Linked DNA regions of Homo sapiens: region 2 is linked to region 1. The links come from fine-mapping of genetic effects on gene expression. Tissue or cell type: whole blood. Region 1 holds a variant in brackets; the other region holds the start of a gene. All regions are shown on one strand. Distances are between the middles of the regions.

Region 1 (8,217 bases):
GTCATAGTTTTCTGTAGGAGGTAGGGTATGAAAAATGGGCCATATATAAGCAAACCTGGAATAAGAGTCAGGTGCTCATGAAGTAAGAATTACAGTACATTCACTCATTAAATGGCTCCTGAGCATTTTTCTTGTGCCTGGTATTCTGCTGTGGGTAAATGAGAAAGACCTACATTTGAGATTTTTTTCTTTCAAGAAATTTCACATTTTTAGTGAGAAAAAACAAGTCATATAAAAATGGAGCACTTAATTCTTCAACTGTTATTTGTAGTATCGCCCAAGACGAGTGACACTGACAGGAAAAATATGGTGAGGAGAAAGTCAACGGGCTTGGAGTGGTTAAAGTAGGACGAATATTCATTGGTTGAGTAGTTGGAATTTGAACTGGACCTTGAAAGTTGGGTAGAATTTAAATGAGTGAAGAAGAGCTAGGAAATAATTTCATTAAGGAAATAAATATAGCTAAGATGGGACAAGCATAGCATTTCTAATGCCATACCATTGTTTTTATAATTAACGTAGCATAAAGACACAAACGCACTTCCCCCTACTGTTTTCAAGGATAATCCAGTGTCTACACCTAAGGTAAGAGATCTATAGCCAAATTATTATATTCTTGTATTATAATCTCCTACTGTCAAGAGAAGGCCCACCATGTCTTTTTAGAAAAAAACTTACTAAGAACAGTATCTGTATGATTTGGAGATGGGTGCCAACATGAAAGTCTTATTTCTCGGTATGGCCAATAATTAAAAAGAGAAATTAGAAGATTCTCAGCTAGAAAGCTATGTAGACACCAATATTATTTATTTTCTCAGAAATATTCCCTAAGGATGAACATGAGAAGAAACCTCCCATAGAATAATAAGTATAGTATCCTGTAACTCTCCTTCTGGTCCCCTACCTTCTCCATATTATGCTAATTACCGGATAGATACTTAGATCTTAGTGTAGTGTTTTTCTCACTCCCTTCCTATCCTCTCACATTTCTACTTCTTCGTTTTTGCTGTATCAAGTGACCTATGAAATAGAAACTGACTTCAGATAATTTTAATTTCTTCATAGTTCAGCTTCATAATAGTAAATATCTAAATTTTTGAAGAAAGTTGATCATTTAGAAGTTATGTCTTTTTTAGGACTCAAATCCAAAAGCATGAAGCAACAGCTAAGCAAGAACTAATGGCTAAATTATCAACTTGGAAAACTGGAAAATCTGGATGGCAGAGAAATATACTATCTATCTCACCAGTATTTGCTCTCGACTCAAGAAGGTTAACATTTTCTGATTCATGTTAGACTTTGAAGAGACTAAAGAAAATTTTCAAGAGGAACATATGCCTGAGAACCTTTGCATGAATTTAAAATTTCAATTATCCATTCTTATAAGAAGGAAGATGATTGTAAAGAAATATCTCCGAAGTTAAAATCTGTAATAGGAATTGATTCATTCTCTAATGAAAACAAAACATAAAAACATCACACTAATCTTGGAGGAATAAGAAAAATTGTACATCCATTAAATGTACAATTGATTGCAACATCTTGATTGTTTTAACCATTAACTTGTCAAATTACAATCACAGTTAAGAAAATGATGTAAAATTCTGTTTTGTGGATCTCTTTCCTAGATTAGCTTCTGAAATCATTATTAGCTATATCATTTGAGGTTTTCTACAATTTGGTATAACTAAGAATTTAAAAATGTTTTATCATATATATTTGTATAATTAATTACTGGCATGGTTAAAGTGGTTTTCACTTTTTAAATGGAGAAAATTTCAGTTAAATTAATAGGATAAACCAGGTTGCGAACTGGTGACCTGTAGGCCATGTTTGCACTGCAAATATATTTGGTCTGAATGATATTGATATTGGACACATAGTACTTTTACATGTTTTGAATGTATTGCTAATATTTAAAAATTGAGAGATCTTGCATAAACAATAGATTCCCAGCTTTGTCAGATGTAATCTAAAAGTAATCCGATGCTTTGTCAACAACAGACTTACATTGCCCATAGCAACCGTCAGCTTAGTTGATGGGTAATGTAGCAAACACTATTGGTTTCCTACCAAATAATCCCCTTTTTCCTGGCTTTTAGAACAATAATTTTGTTCACCTGCCCACTTCTAGGAAAGAATATCCTATCTAATCTATCTATCTCAGGGATAAATCCCTATCCTTTTAAGTAAGTCAAGTCAATTAAAATAACCTCATTTTTCCTTGCTAGTGGTCGACTTGGAGATGATTTTATAATCCTCCCCCTCCCTTTTTTTTTTTGCTAGTAAGACGACAGAGGAATTATGTTACAACACTTCTGGAAAATTTTTCCTCGTCTCTTTTTCTGGATATGGGCATCTGAATACTCTAGCTGGTACTGCTGCGCTCCACACGGTGATTATGAAGGCTGAAAAAGATAGATAGAGCAGAAAGATGAAAAGAATAAAACCTGGCCTTTCAATGATGTCATGGAATTGGTAGATCAGTGACTGCTGGAGTTACCTCACACTTTCTTGGTACTCCTTATTATATGAGCCATACATTTTCCTTGTTGTTTAAGCCATTTTGAATTGGATTTTCTCTCACTTTCAACAGAGATCATCCTAACTAGTAAAGTAGCTGTTTCCATAATCAGGGAACATGCTTTAGTTCATCATCACAGCTACAGTTTTTCTTGTATTTGTCTGCTTCACCCATTTCTATCAATCACTTACCTGGTCCCCACAGGCCTGTCGCTTCATGAGGAACTTTATGGTTCATTTACCCTTGCAGTATGAGGTTCTAGATAAGCCCACTCTGGCCTCAAAAGTGAAGCTCAGTCCTCAGGAAATCCAGAGTCCACTGATCAAATCACTGTCAAGGATACAGGCTTTTTCTCCATGTGGCATTTGCAGAAGAACAACTTTAAAAGTAGAGCTTTATCTGCCCTGTGAGGTTTCAGAAGACCCTCCCCTGACCCAGAAATAAATCCCTATTTCCTGGAAAGCCATTATGTACTCGTGACCAACTTGTGAACTTTTCTGTGTTGTTGTTGTTGTTTTTTAAATATCTGTCCCCAGTAATAGATTCACCTAATCCTTTTTTATACTGATGGAATGGAAATCTTAAATCTATGAATCCTCAACTAGCCATGTACCATAACCCAAGCAAAAACTAAACCATACACTCTCAAAAGCAGTGGCATGTGAACATGCCTGCAAGTTCCTAAATGATGTCACTAGGTCCCTGATGCAGATGCATCATACGTCCTATTTGAAGAGAAGAAATGCAGTACAATGACAGGAAAACCATTATTTTATCATAGAACTGCGAACCCAAGTCCTACAATGTTTCCCTTTCAGCTCAACTGCAGAATAGTTTAGAACAGACTTTTTGATTTCACAATACTGTTTCCACACTTACTTATATCCGTAACTTTCTAACTTTAAGGGAATTCCGCTTATTTGACATTTAACTACCTCAGATATGCCACCAAACCTGTTTTCATCATTAGTTATTTTTACCTTGTCTACTTTAAAACAGTGAAATTATTAGGTTAAATTATGTTTTTATCCAGTTACTCTAAGATACCTTAGTGTTTGTCTACTTATTACAACTCACCAAATTACTGGTTTTATATGGCCTTTGGGAAGGCTTTTAGCTTTTTATAAAATAATGAAGTATGCATGAAAAGAAAGCAAATTTTAGTTGGTTGCAGTCAGAGAATATGGAAAGGGTTATTATTATAATTAGGATTTTATTATTCACATTGGAAATCACTGCTATGTGTTAAGGAATTGAAGGTGGCCTCTGGCTAGCAGCCATTAAGAAAATGAGCCCCTGAGTTCAACGACCCTCAAATGAAGTGAAGTCTACCAATAACCACTGAATAAGCTTGGAATTTTAGATTCCTTCCCAGCTGAATCTTGACTTCAGCCTTGTGAGACACCCTGAAGTAGAGGATGCAGCTAAATTTTGTCCAGATTACACACCCACAGAAACTGTATGATAATTAATATGTGTTGTTTAAAGTTGTTATGGTTTGGAGATATTTGTTATGCAGCAATAGATAGCTGATACAAGGAAGTAGAGAACAAACATTTTCTATTAGTCTGTTTTCACATGGCTATAAAGAATACCACCTGAGACTGGGTAATTTATAAAGAAAGGAGGATTAATTGACTCAGATTTCCA[C/A]ATGGCCTAGGAGGCCTCAGGAAACTTACAATCATGATGAAAGAGGAAGCAGAAACATCTCATATGATGGAAGATGTGTATGAAGGAGGAACTGTCAAACACTTATAAAACCATCAGATCTCTTGAGAGCTTACTATCTCGACAAAAGCATGGGGGAAACCACCCCCATGATCCAATCACCTCCCACCTGGTCCCTCCCTCAACATGTGGAGATTATAGCAATTAAAAAAATGAGATTTGGGGGGATGGACACAGAGCCAAACCATATAATGTTTTAAATGCTCCAGATAGGTTTAGGTAAAATTAACTATATTTAATAGGCTTTCATCACTGCAAAACTTTTTTTCCTTTCTTTGTGTCTCTAGTCTCTTCCATTTGTTCTCCCTTCTTTACTAGCACCGAGGATTTGCTTGAAATCTCTGATAGCCAGTATTCTCATTTATCATATTCTTTCTCACTTTGTGTTTCCTTGGTAATTTTGGATAACTCCTTAAATTTATCTTCCAAATTACTGGTTTTTATATTCTGTACTGTCAGTCCTCCTGTTCACTAATTTCAAAATTTATAGTTGTTTCTCTTGTTTACTTATATAGTTGTTTCTCTTGTTTACTTAATAACATTCTCTTCTTTCCTATCAGTTTAATTTTATAAAGGCTAACCAATTAACTGTTTTTAACTTATATTTCCAGATATTTTAAAAATTAAAGCAAAATGTGTATAAACTTTATTACTGCTTCCCACAGTAAATATTTTTCAGAAGTACATGCTTTCTCAGCCACTTGACTAGTATGTTCCCCATCATTCAAAGACACCATTATTTCCTAAGTGTTATATTGCTATTTTTCAGTTGGTGCATCCAATATTATTATCAGCTTTAATATTGTTTCATCATATGTCATTGTTCAAAGAATCCATCTCTTGAGCGTAAGCTAAATAATTTGCATACACTAGCATCTGGATGTAATATGGAAAAATATGGAAATGGTTGGGGTGATAAGCAAGTCTTGCATATTCTTTTCTCCTCAATTTTTTTTCTCCAAAGTGGGCCAAGCCAAGAGTGGCACAGCTGTGTGGAGATACTGAGCTCCACCTTGTCAGGGAAGATCCCAACTCAGGAGAAAACACCTCTAACAAAATCTGTAGCCACGTTGGCACATCTGCCCTTGAATTCACTTTGTCTCTTTTGCTGCTTCCATAAAAAGGCTTTCCCTTGACAATGTTAGGCACTTTTTAGCAACTAGGCCTGGGTGGTCTGCTACAATGCCCAACACTTAATACAGTATCACTATTACTGTTAGTAGTATGCTAAGCGAATACTATTGTTATAAAAAAAATCCTAAGCATGAAAATTACGGTATACAATTTATTGTGAAGGCAACTTCTTGTGAACATTAAACGGTTTATCTCCTTCACCTCATATTAAAGTCCATACTCTTGGGATATATCTGACATCTCAATATTAAATGACTAAGATGACTAAGTCGTTTATGTTGCTCCCACCTCACACAAAGTTAAAACTATTTGTTACTTTAAATAGTTTGACAATGTTATTTTAAAATCTGGACAAATCACAAATATAAAATACTTATTTAATTTTCTTCTGTAAAAAGATGTATGCTTGGTCAGGCACAGTGGCTGATGCCTATAATCCCAGCACTTTGGGAGGCTGAGGTGGGTGGATCACGAGGGTCAGGAGTTCGAGACCAGCCTGGCCAAGTTGATGAAACCTCATCTCTACCAATAATACAAAAATTAGCCAGGCAGGATGGCGGGCACCTGTAATCCCAGCTCTCAGGAGGCTGAGGCAGGAGAATCACTTGAACCCAGGGCACAGAGGTTTCAGTGAGCCAAGATCGTACCACCGCACTCTAGCCTGGGTGACAGAGCAAGACTGACTCCACCCAAAAAAAAAAAAAAAAAGCAAAAAGAACAAAGCTGGAGGCATCACACTACCTGACTTCAAACAATACTACAAGGCTACAGTAACCAAAGCAGCATGGTACTGGTACCAAAACAGAGAGACAAACCAATGGAACAGAACAGAGGCCTCAGAAGTAACACCAGACATCTCCAACCATCTGATCTTTGACAAACCTGACAAAAACAAGCAATGTGTAAAGGATTCCCTATTTAATAAATGGTGTTGGGAAAACTGGCTAGCCATATGCAGAAAACTGAAACTGGACCCTTTCCTTACACCTTATACAAAAATTAACTCAAGATGGATCAAAGACTCAGACGTAAGACCTAAAACCATAACTCCAGAAGTAAACCTAGGCAATACCATTCAGGACATAGGCATGGGCAAAGACTTCATGACTAAAACACCAAAAGCAATGGCAACAGACGCCAACATTGACAAATGGGATCTAATTAAACTAAAGAGCTTCTGCACAGCAAAAGAAACTATCAGAGTGAACAGGCAACCTACAAAATGGGAGACAATTTTTGCAATCTATCCATCTGACAAAGGGCTAATATCCAGAATCTACAAAGAACTTAAATTTACAAGAAAAAAAAAATCCCCCATCAAAAAGTAGGTGAAGGATATGAACAGACACTTTTCAAAAAAAGATATTTATGCAGCCAACAAACTATGAAAAAAAGCTCATCATCACTGGTCATTTGAGAAACGCAAATTAAAACCACGATGAGATACAATCTCATGCCAGTTAGAATGGTGATCCTTAAAAAGTCAGGAAAACAACAGATGCTGGAGAGGATGTGGAGAAACAGGAACACTTTTACACTGTTGGGAGTGTAAATTAGTTCAACCATTGTGAAAGACAATATGGCAATTCATTAAGGTTCTAGAACCAGAAATACCATTTGACCAAGCAATCCCATTACTGGGTTTATACCCAAAGGATTGTAAATCATTCTACTATAAAGACATATGCACACGTATGTTTATTGTGATACTGTTCACAAAGCAAAGACTTAGAACCAACCCAAGTGCCCATGAATGATACACTAGATAAAGAAAATTTGGCACATATACACCATGAAATACCACACAGCCATAAAAAAGGATGAGTTCACGTCCTATGCAGGGACATGAAAACCATCATTGTCAGCAAACTAACAGAGGAACAGAAAACCAAACACCACATGTTCTCACTTATAAGTGGGAGTTGAACAATGAGAACACACGGACCCAGGGAGAGGAACATCACATACCGGGGCCTGTTGCGGGGTGGGGGAGTAGGGGAGGGATAGCATTATGAGAAATACCTAATGTAGATGATGGGTGGGTGGGTGCAGCCAACCACCATGGCACATGTATACCTATAGTAACAAACCTTCACATTCTGCACATGTATCCCAGAACTGAAAGTATAATTTTTAAAAAATTTAAAAAACAATATATGCTTAATATAGAAAGGTTGAGAAACAAGAGAAAGTACTAAGACAAAAATTTTTCCTAATCTCACCAAGTATGATTTCAATCAACACTTGGAAATATGACCTTTTCCTCTCTTTTCTGTCTGGTATATAAGTTAAGTATTAATTCAATATTTATGCTATTTGTATTATGGCTTTTAATTTTACTTAGTAATATGACACAAATCTATAAGAATATTATGCAGCCATCAATACTATTTTATTAATGAATAATGTTTTACTTAATATCTGATTCAACAATGAAATCTTTTTTCAAAAATGTTTATGGCTAAAATAATGCAGTGATGAACAATGGTGTATATACCATCTAAAGGCAGTTCTCTGTATCACAGTTCGGGTTCCTGGGCAAGCAGAATCTGAGATGGATTTTAGCAGCCAGGAAGTTTATTATGGAGGGCTTTCAGGTCAGGTCCCCTATTTGTTTAATGGAATGGGAGAAAGCAGGATTAGGCTGGAGGAGTTGGGAATGATGCTGCCTCAAAGAAGGCTTTAGCTGGCCCAGCCAGCCCTGAACCTGGGCTATCCTTCAGAATGAAGCCAAGTTGAGGCAAAAGGGAAAAGCTTTTACTCCCTCATGTCAACTAGTCACAGGTACAAATTGCTCTCAAAAGAGCTGTGACCTTGGGCAAGATGACTTT
Region 2 (8,217 bases), 64 kb before region 1:
ATGCTGTATTTATCACAAAGAAACAAAAGGGAAAATTAAACTGACTGCCCAAATTCAACTTTTATGCTTACTTGATACAACTTTGAGGAAATAACCAGGGAAGCAGAAAATAAAATTCATTTAGAGATTGGTATAAATTCTTTGACAGTAAAGGGAATTATAACTCTGGGCTATGAAGAATGATGAAAAATTATGAGAATGATAACTGGAACAAACTGATCAAAGGCATGTCACGACTACAAGAGAATTGAAAAGAGCCGAAGAACAAGTGCCAATTTAAAATTCCACATGGATCAGCATGCAGACTGTCATCATTCACCATTTCCAGGGCACTCCCCTCCTCAAGAAGCAAGCAGGAAGGTTATACTTCTCATTCGATCCCATCAGTGGTGACCATTCACCACAGCGTCAAAGTCAAGCACAAATACTTAGCAGGATATCTTCCCATTCTCTCAGGCATTCTTTGCTCCAACAATTCCAAACACTACCAGCCATAAACTAATGTGCTATAATATATTGTCCTTATTTATTCTCATAATTCTTTTTTTCCAACTTTTATTTTAGATTCAAGGAGGTACATATCCATCTGTTACATGGATATATTCCGTGATGCTGAGGTTTAGGGTACAAATAATCCTGCCACCCGGGTACTCAGCATAGTATCCAATAGCTAGGTTTTCAGCCTTTTCCCCTCTTCCCTCCCTTCTCCAGCAGTACCCAGTGTCTATTGTTGTCATCTTTATGTCCATGGGTACACAGCGTTTAGCTCCCATGTATAATTGAGAACATGCAGTATTTATAGATTTTGGATATTAGACTTTTGTCAGCTGTGCAGTTTGCTTATATTTTCGCCCGTTATGTAGGTTGTTGGTTTGCTCTGCTGATAGTTTCTTTTTGCTGTACAGAAGCTCTTTAATTTAATTAGGTCCCACTTGTCCATTTTTGTTTTCATTGCAATTGCTTTTGAGGACTTAAGTCATAAATTGTTTCCAGGGCCAATGTCCAGAATGTCATTTCCTAGGTTTTCCATAGTTTGAGGTCTGACATTTAAATCTTTAATCCATCTTGAGTTAATTTTTGTATATGGTGTAAGGTACCGGTTTTCTGTTTCTGCATTAATTCACTTAGGTTAATGGCCTCTAGGTGATCCATGTGCTGCAAAGAACACAATTTAATTCTTTTTTATAGCTGCATAGTATTCCAAGGTATATATGTACCACATTGTATTTATCCATTCCACCACTGATGGGCACCTAGCTTGATTCCATGTCATTGCTCTTGTGGATAGTACTGTGATGAACATAAGCATGTGTCTTCTCGGTAGAATAATTTATTTTCTTTTGGCTATATATCCAGTAAACGGATTGTTCGGTCAAATGACAGTTCTGTTTTAATTTCTTTGAGAAATCTCCAAACTGCTTTCCAGAGTGGCTGAACTAATTTACATTCCTACCAACATTGTGTGTTTCCTTTTCTCTGTGGCCTCACCAGCATTTGTTATTTTTTGACTTTTTAGTAATAGCCATTTTGGCTGGTGTGAGTTGGTACCTCATTGTTTTGATTTGCATTTCTCTGATAATTAGTTATGTTGGGCAATTTTTTCACATGTTTTTTTAACTGCTTGTATTTCTTCTTTTGAGAAGTGTCTGTTCATTTCTTTTGACCCTTTTTTTTTTTTTTTTTCTTTTTTTTTGAGACGGAGTCTTGCTCTGTCACCCAGGCTGGAGTGCAGTGGCGCAGTCTTGGTTCACTGCAACCTCCTCCTCCGGGTTCAAGTGATTCTCCTGCCTCAGCCTCCCAAGTAGCTGGGACTACAGGTGCCTACCACACGTGGCTAATTTTTGTATTTTTAATAGAGATGGGGTTTCACTATGTTGGCTAGACTAGTCTCGAACTCTTGACTTCAGGTGATCTGCCCACCTTGGCCTCCCAGAGTGCTAGGATTACAGGCATGAGCCACTGCACCCACCCTTTTGCCCATTTTTAAATGAGGTTACTTATCTCATGCTTGTTCAATTGTTTAAGTTCTTTATAGATTCTGGATATTAGACTTTTGTCAGCTGTGTAGTTTGCTCATATTTTCACCCGTTATGTAGGTTGTTGGTTTGCTCTGCTGATAGTTTCTTTTTGCTCTACAGAAGCTCTTTAATTTAATTAGGTCCCACTCATCCATTTTTGTTTTCATTGCAATTGCTTTTGAGGACTTAAGTTATAAATTGTTTCCTAGGGCCAATGTCCAGAATGTCATTTTCTAGGTTTTCCATAATTTGAGGTCTTACATTTAAATCTTTAATCCATCTTGAGTTAATTTTTGTATATGGTGTAAGGTAGGGGTCCAGTTTTATTCTTCTGCATATGGCTAGCCAGCTATCCCAGCACCATTTATGAAATAGGGAGTCCTTTTCCCAGGACTCCTGCCACCAGGATGCACTCCCTGCCCTGTTTGGTGTAGACCTCTGACTTCTATTGATAAATCTATTGTAACACTAAACACCTTGTGATATTGTGATCATTTATAGGTGGTACTCACTCTGTGCAATTTTATGGTAATTGAACTTATCTTTGTCAGATTGTGAACATCTCAATGAAAGTGATTGTGTTTTTTGTTTGTTTGTTTGTTTGAGACACTGTCTCGCTCTGTTGCCCAGGCTGGAGTGTGTTGTTGCAATCTCAGCTCGCTGCAGCCTCTGCCTCCTGGGTTCAAGCAATCAAGCAGTTCTCCTACCTCAGCCTCCTGAGTAACTGGGATTACAGGTGACCACCACCACACCCAGCTAATTTTTTTTTTTTAGTAGAGATGGGGTTTCACCATGTTGGGCAGGCTGGTCTCAAATTCTGATCTCAGGTAGTCTGTCTGCCTCAGCCTCCCAAAGTGCTGGGATTACAGACATGAGCCACCACTCCCGGCCATGATTGTGTTTTTTCAACTGCAATCTCAGTGTCTGACACATAATAGCTGTAAGTAAAATTACGTTGAATTAATGGAGAAAAAATATGTAATAATTAAAAGTTGAAGTATCCTTTCTGTTCCCTGGAAAAGACAAAGCAATGGAACTTGGGTTGAAAAGGCAAGAAATCTGTGAATCGCAATCCTGATGGTTAAAATGCTCAGTAACTAGACTCAAAAATTCCTTTGTGGTTTTAGTTGATGACTGTATAATCATTTGGAGACATCAATAATCACTGTAATCCCTCTAGTATGAGAATGTGTTTCAGAATCTGTAAAATGATGCATGATTTTAGTGGACTAGGACTAGGTTTTGTGGTAATAACTGGTCCTCAGCGTAATTTCTATTCCTTAGGAATTTCATAATTATTTCTATTCTCCCAGAATCTTTTCAATAGAAATGATACTGGGAGTACAAGTCAGCTAAGCCAAGGGAAAGCATTAGAGTATATGACTAAGAGCCCAGACAACACATAGTTCAGATTCCACTTCTACCACTTACTGGATAGGTGACTTTATCTGCTTAATCTTCTTAATCTATACAATGAGGGGACAACTGATTCTTAATCTTTTGAATTTTGCCTTTAAAACCCCAAATTTTCACCTGCAAAATGATTGTAAATGCATAATACATGAGTATCATAAAGACTAATAAAATAACAAGTACAGTAGATTTAGGAGAGTACCTGTATTAGTCCATTTTCATACTATCACGAAGAAATATCTGAGACTGGGTAAATTAAAAAGAGGTTTCATGGCCTCACAGTTTCACATGGCTGGGGAGGCCTCACTCTCATGGTAGAAGGTGAAGGAGGAGCAAAGACACATCTTACATGGAGGCAGGCAAAGAGAGCCTGAGCAGGGGAACTGCCCTTTATAAAATCATTAGATCTTATGAGACTTATTCACTATAATGAGAACAGCATGGGAAAAGCCCGCCCCTTGATTCAATTATCTCCCACTGGGTCCCTCCCACAACACATGGGGATTATGGGAGCTACAATTCAAGATGAGATTCAGGTAGGGACACAACCAAACCCTATCAGTACCTAAAACTTAATAAGCAGCTCAGTTGATATTAGTTATTTTATTGGTTATAAGTATGATTTTTAGACATGCCCAGTTTAGCCTTACTACCACCAGTGACAGATCCTAAAATTGTATCCTTTGGGTCTTGAATCCTTCTTCCACACTCCTCATTGCCAGTTATGACACAAATACCCCCAAGGATCTAAAAATTATTGTGCTTATATTGTCAGACATTCTTATTTCAGGATAGTTCAAACTTCCTGAGAGTACACTTGTGTGAGGAATAGAACATAAAATAATGGAAAAGAGAATGCTATATAGTAATTAGGTTGAATTAGAAATTGCTTTACATAACCACATTATGTATGTGGGGGAAAAATAACATTCTTAATAACTTTTTTCCTACAACTGTATATATATAAAAATATATTTAAACATATATTTATATATCATATCCGTAATGTAAATAAATGTCTAGCATGTTTTTCAAGACTCATTAATGCAGTTGCCTCTTTCCTTGTAGCTTATCTGGCTATAGTAATATGTTGGAAATGTACTACTTTGGAGTGGGGAGTATGGCAAAGGAGAGCAAAACAATAGTTCAGATCAAGTAATCTTAGAGCCAGGAGGCAGCCAGGACTTCCGCCTGCTGGGCCATTGTTGCAGGACCACAGCTTCGAGGTTGCGCAACACCTTTAGTAAACACTTCCTGAATCAGAGACAAGAATGAACCAGGGAGTTTCATTCTGTCTCACTGGAGAGGAGGCAGGGACAGACCCAGCAGCACCCACCTGAGCGAGAAGAGCAGACACCGTGCTCCTGGAATCACCCAGCATGTTGCAAGGTCTCCTGCCAGTCAGTCTCCTCCTCTCTGTTGCAGGTACATATTTAGCTCTTTTTCAGGTTCTATTGAATGCATTAGCGAACTTTTCATAGTCTCCTAATAGTTTTATTGTATAAACTATTTTGACTTTTTTCTTTTTCTTTTTTCTCAATCAATCTTACTAACCAGTTGGGCTGGTTTTAACCTGTTGTTTGGGGGCTGCGAGTGATACAAAGACAATGTTAAAAAGAGGCAACAAGAGGTCTTGAACCAATATGTATGCATCTCATCTGAGAATATACAGAAATAAAAGGGACAATTTCATACAGCACAATTTAAATCATGAATATGATTTTTGACTGAAAAAGTGGAATTCATCAAAACCCAGCTTGTCATTTAAAGAATGGTAAAGATGTGGCAGATTTATTTATTTATTACTGTGTACAAGGCTTAGGAAAATACCTACTATTATTATGGGAGCCAGTTTGGCTCTTTCTGTTTGAGTGTATATTTTTGTATTTACTCATTATTAGTAATAATACGTGTGACTAACTGGAAATAATTAATATTTTTTATTTATAAGGTACTGTGATATTACTTAACAAAATATCTCTGTTAAGCTTAAATTGATAATTTACTTCTATTTTGCTGATTATACCAAACATTTAAAAATTTGAAAGGAGAAAAATACTACTTCCTAACAGGAAATTATGTCTAGCAAGTCTCTCAATTTCTGGTAAATTCTCTAATTAGACTTTGGTTAAATTAGATTGGGTATTGTGATTCTTCAGCTTCTATTTCCAGAGCTTATTTAACTCAGCACATGAACTGCAGTGCCTCGAATTCCTCCCAGTAAACCTGTTCTTGGGTCTTAGAATGTTTGCTGGGACCTGGGGATGGGAACAGATTATCAACTAGAGGTATGGGCTTAGGGAGGGAAAAGTTTTCCTTGTCCATGCACCCTCTTAGTACTTTGTTGCTAAAAATGATTTTCCTGTGTCTCACCTGTTTCTGATTTGTTTTCAAGACTTATAAAAATTTCACTTAACCTAATATCTTTAAATATCGAATTATTTTCCTTTTGTTTCTGTGTATTTTTGCTTTATATAATATGTACCTATATCTGAACTGAACCTTTTCCCACTGTGCTGTGATCCTCTTCATCTCTAATGCCTTTTGCTTTGATACCTATTTTGTCTGATGTGAACGTGTTACACCAGCTTTCTTTTGGTAAAATAAGCCTGAAATATTAAAAATATATATAAAACTCATGCCAGGCATTTAACATTGACCTGAAATTCCTACTTTTTGAGGCAGACTTAATAGAAATGTTTTTTTCTCTCCGTTCTCCAAAAATGCTATCACCAAGAGCTTTTCCAGAACCCCCTCTAAGCTGAAATACAAGAACTGCTTGGGCACTAGCTTAGTTGAAGAGCGTAAAGATCAAGCTGGATCCATTAACAGAGTCACATGGCTAACACTGGGGCCCATGCACATTACAGTCCTTTTGTGCAACTGGGCACACTAATCAGTTCTGCTGCCCCGACGGTGCATGTATAACATGGCACCAAGAGATGCAACTTCCTCTGATGTCAACTCTAAAAGTGTGATGTCACCCCTCCTTTAACTTCTAGCTTCTATTTTTAAGGGTGTCTTTTTGCCACTGAACTATCCCTGTTATGATTCCCATTTGGGTTGCCTTTCTAGTCAGAATATAAGAAGTAAAGCAATTTTCATTTCCCAGTTCTTCCTGTTTGTTCTCTGCCCCCATCATCAAAGCAATACATATGTGCCCCTCTGACCATGACTTCTGCCCAGTCCCCAGATGGTTGAAATAAAAGAAAGAGATGTAAAATAAGGCTGGTTGTGTGCAGTGAACTTCACAATCCCGAGAAAAAATTGACTTATGGGATTTCATCCTAGGAAAAGGAAAAACAAATATTTAAAAGGATGTGACAGGTGTTTGCGGGGTGAAGATGTAAATGATTGCATCAACAAAGGAGAAAGGTGCTTACCTTATTACAGCAGAATACTCAGGGGGTACAGCACTTTTTGAAATTATTTTATTTCAAACTACCAGTTCTTCCTTGCCTTTATAAGGTAACTGGAAGACTGAAAAGAAAATATACAGTTTAATCTAAATAGTCAAAATAACAGACCTAATAGAAATGCAGTTTTTTCCCTTTTGTTTGTACTCACTTTTAATGCATGAAGTTTAAAACCACAAGATGGTTTGAGGAGATGCAGAGAATCCCAGGACATAAGTCAATATCCTTGTGTAAACCCTAATTCAGCGTTTAATATGATGTGTTCAGTTTGGAAAGAAGACATTTCTTTGAACAGTTTCAAACACATTTGAACGAAAATGAAAATGTCAATATTACATACTCATGTTCCCATTTCCAAAATGACCCCAAACACATGAACAAATAATGTAGCAATCCAGACTAATGTCTCTCATATTAACGTTGTTAATGAGCTTTGGCTTTTCTAAGACTCAAAACAGTCAAAAATAATTATCCCATCTAAACCAAAATAACAGTTTTCTTTTTCCTGATCTGGTTTTGCTAGTCAAGACTAATCCAGTGTGTGAGTTCTGTGGGAGAGAGAAGGCAAGTATTAAAATGAATTAGTAAAAACATATTGTGTTACACCTTGGATTTGTGTAATCCCTGGATGGCAGTTAGTTGTGTTTGTTCCTCAGGCTTCAAAAATAATTAACGTGATGTTATTCAGTGGGGAAGACGCTGCACCATTTCCATTAAACTTAAGGATGGATGAGCTAAACAATATTTAGGTCTGTTACATCCCTACAATGGCTGTGTAATTTGTTGTATTCCAGATCCCATTATTTCAGGGACTTCTAGGTTTCCAGAAAATAAGAGCCTTTAAGAGAAATTCCATTTAGTTTCTTTAGAGAATATATGGAGTGACAGGAGTTTGGAAGGAGCTGGAATTCCATTCACTTCAAACTGAAGAGATTGAGAGGTTGCCAATGATTTCTAAAAGAAATGTTGTGGGTTTTTTTTTGTTGTTGTTGTTGTTTGTTTTATTTTGCTTTGTTTTTGGTTTCCATTTGGAAGTGTTCGGCCACCAAAAAGTTGGAAATAAATTACATAACTTACATATTTTAAGCCCATATTTAAGAGCCAGTTTGCAATTTCTAATTTCATGAAACATTGGGATTCAGATACTAACTAGAAGCATAGAGGTCAGGGTGCATGTGAGAGAAAATTTGTGTTGGCTAGATGAGCCTGTTTTCCTTCTTACCATTTCTGAATGGTGCTGAGAAGGAAACTCACTTCATTTTCTGCTTTTATACAAAAAATCGGGAACGTAGCTATTATTTTATTCCACGAAGGCAGCTTGGACTACTATTTCCTGTTAGAATCATGTGTGTTCTAATATAGCATTTAAA

Evidence for each region. PIP is the estimated chance that this variant, and not a neighbour inherited with it, causes the effect.
Region 2: ADAM28 starts here. The variant in region 1 is fine-mapped to the expression of ADAM28 in whole blood (TOPMed, PIP above 0.99).

Annotation. Positions count from the first base shown.
Region 1 is chr8:24,353,248-24,361,464 of GRCh38, forward strand. ADAM28 (ADAM metallopeptidase domain 28) reads left to right here. Exons shown (of 23, transcript NM_014265.6): 22 at 523-585; 23 at 1,137-5,767. The coding sequence ends at 1,157. All of the region lies in intron 3 of ADAM7-AS1 (ADAM7, ADAMDEC1 and ADAM28 antisense RNA 1), which reads right to left. Among named protein-coding and RNA genes, the nearest start is that of ADAMDEC1, 27 kb to the right of the region's middle. The variant C/A (reference allele first, on the strand shown) is at 4,175.
Region 2 is chr8:24,289,340-24,297,556 of GRCh38, forward strand. ADAM28 (ADAM metallopeptidase domain 28) reads left to right here and starts at 4,730. Exons shown (of 23, transcript NM_014265.6): 1 at 4,730-4,856. The coding sequence starts at 4,811. It overlaps ADAM7-AS1 (ADAM7, ADAMDEC1 and ADAM28 antisense RNA 1), which reads right to left. Exons shown (of 6, transcript NR_125808.1): 5 at 6,815-6,911; 6 at 6,475-6,718.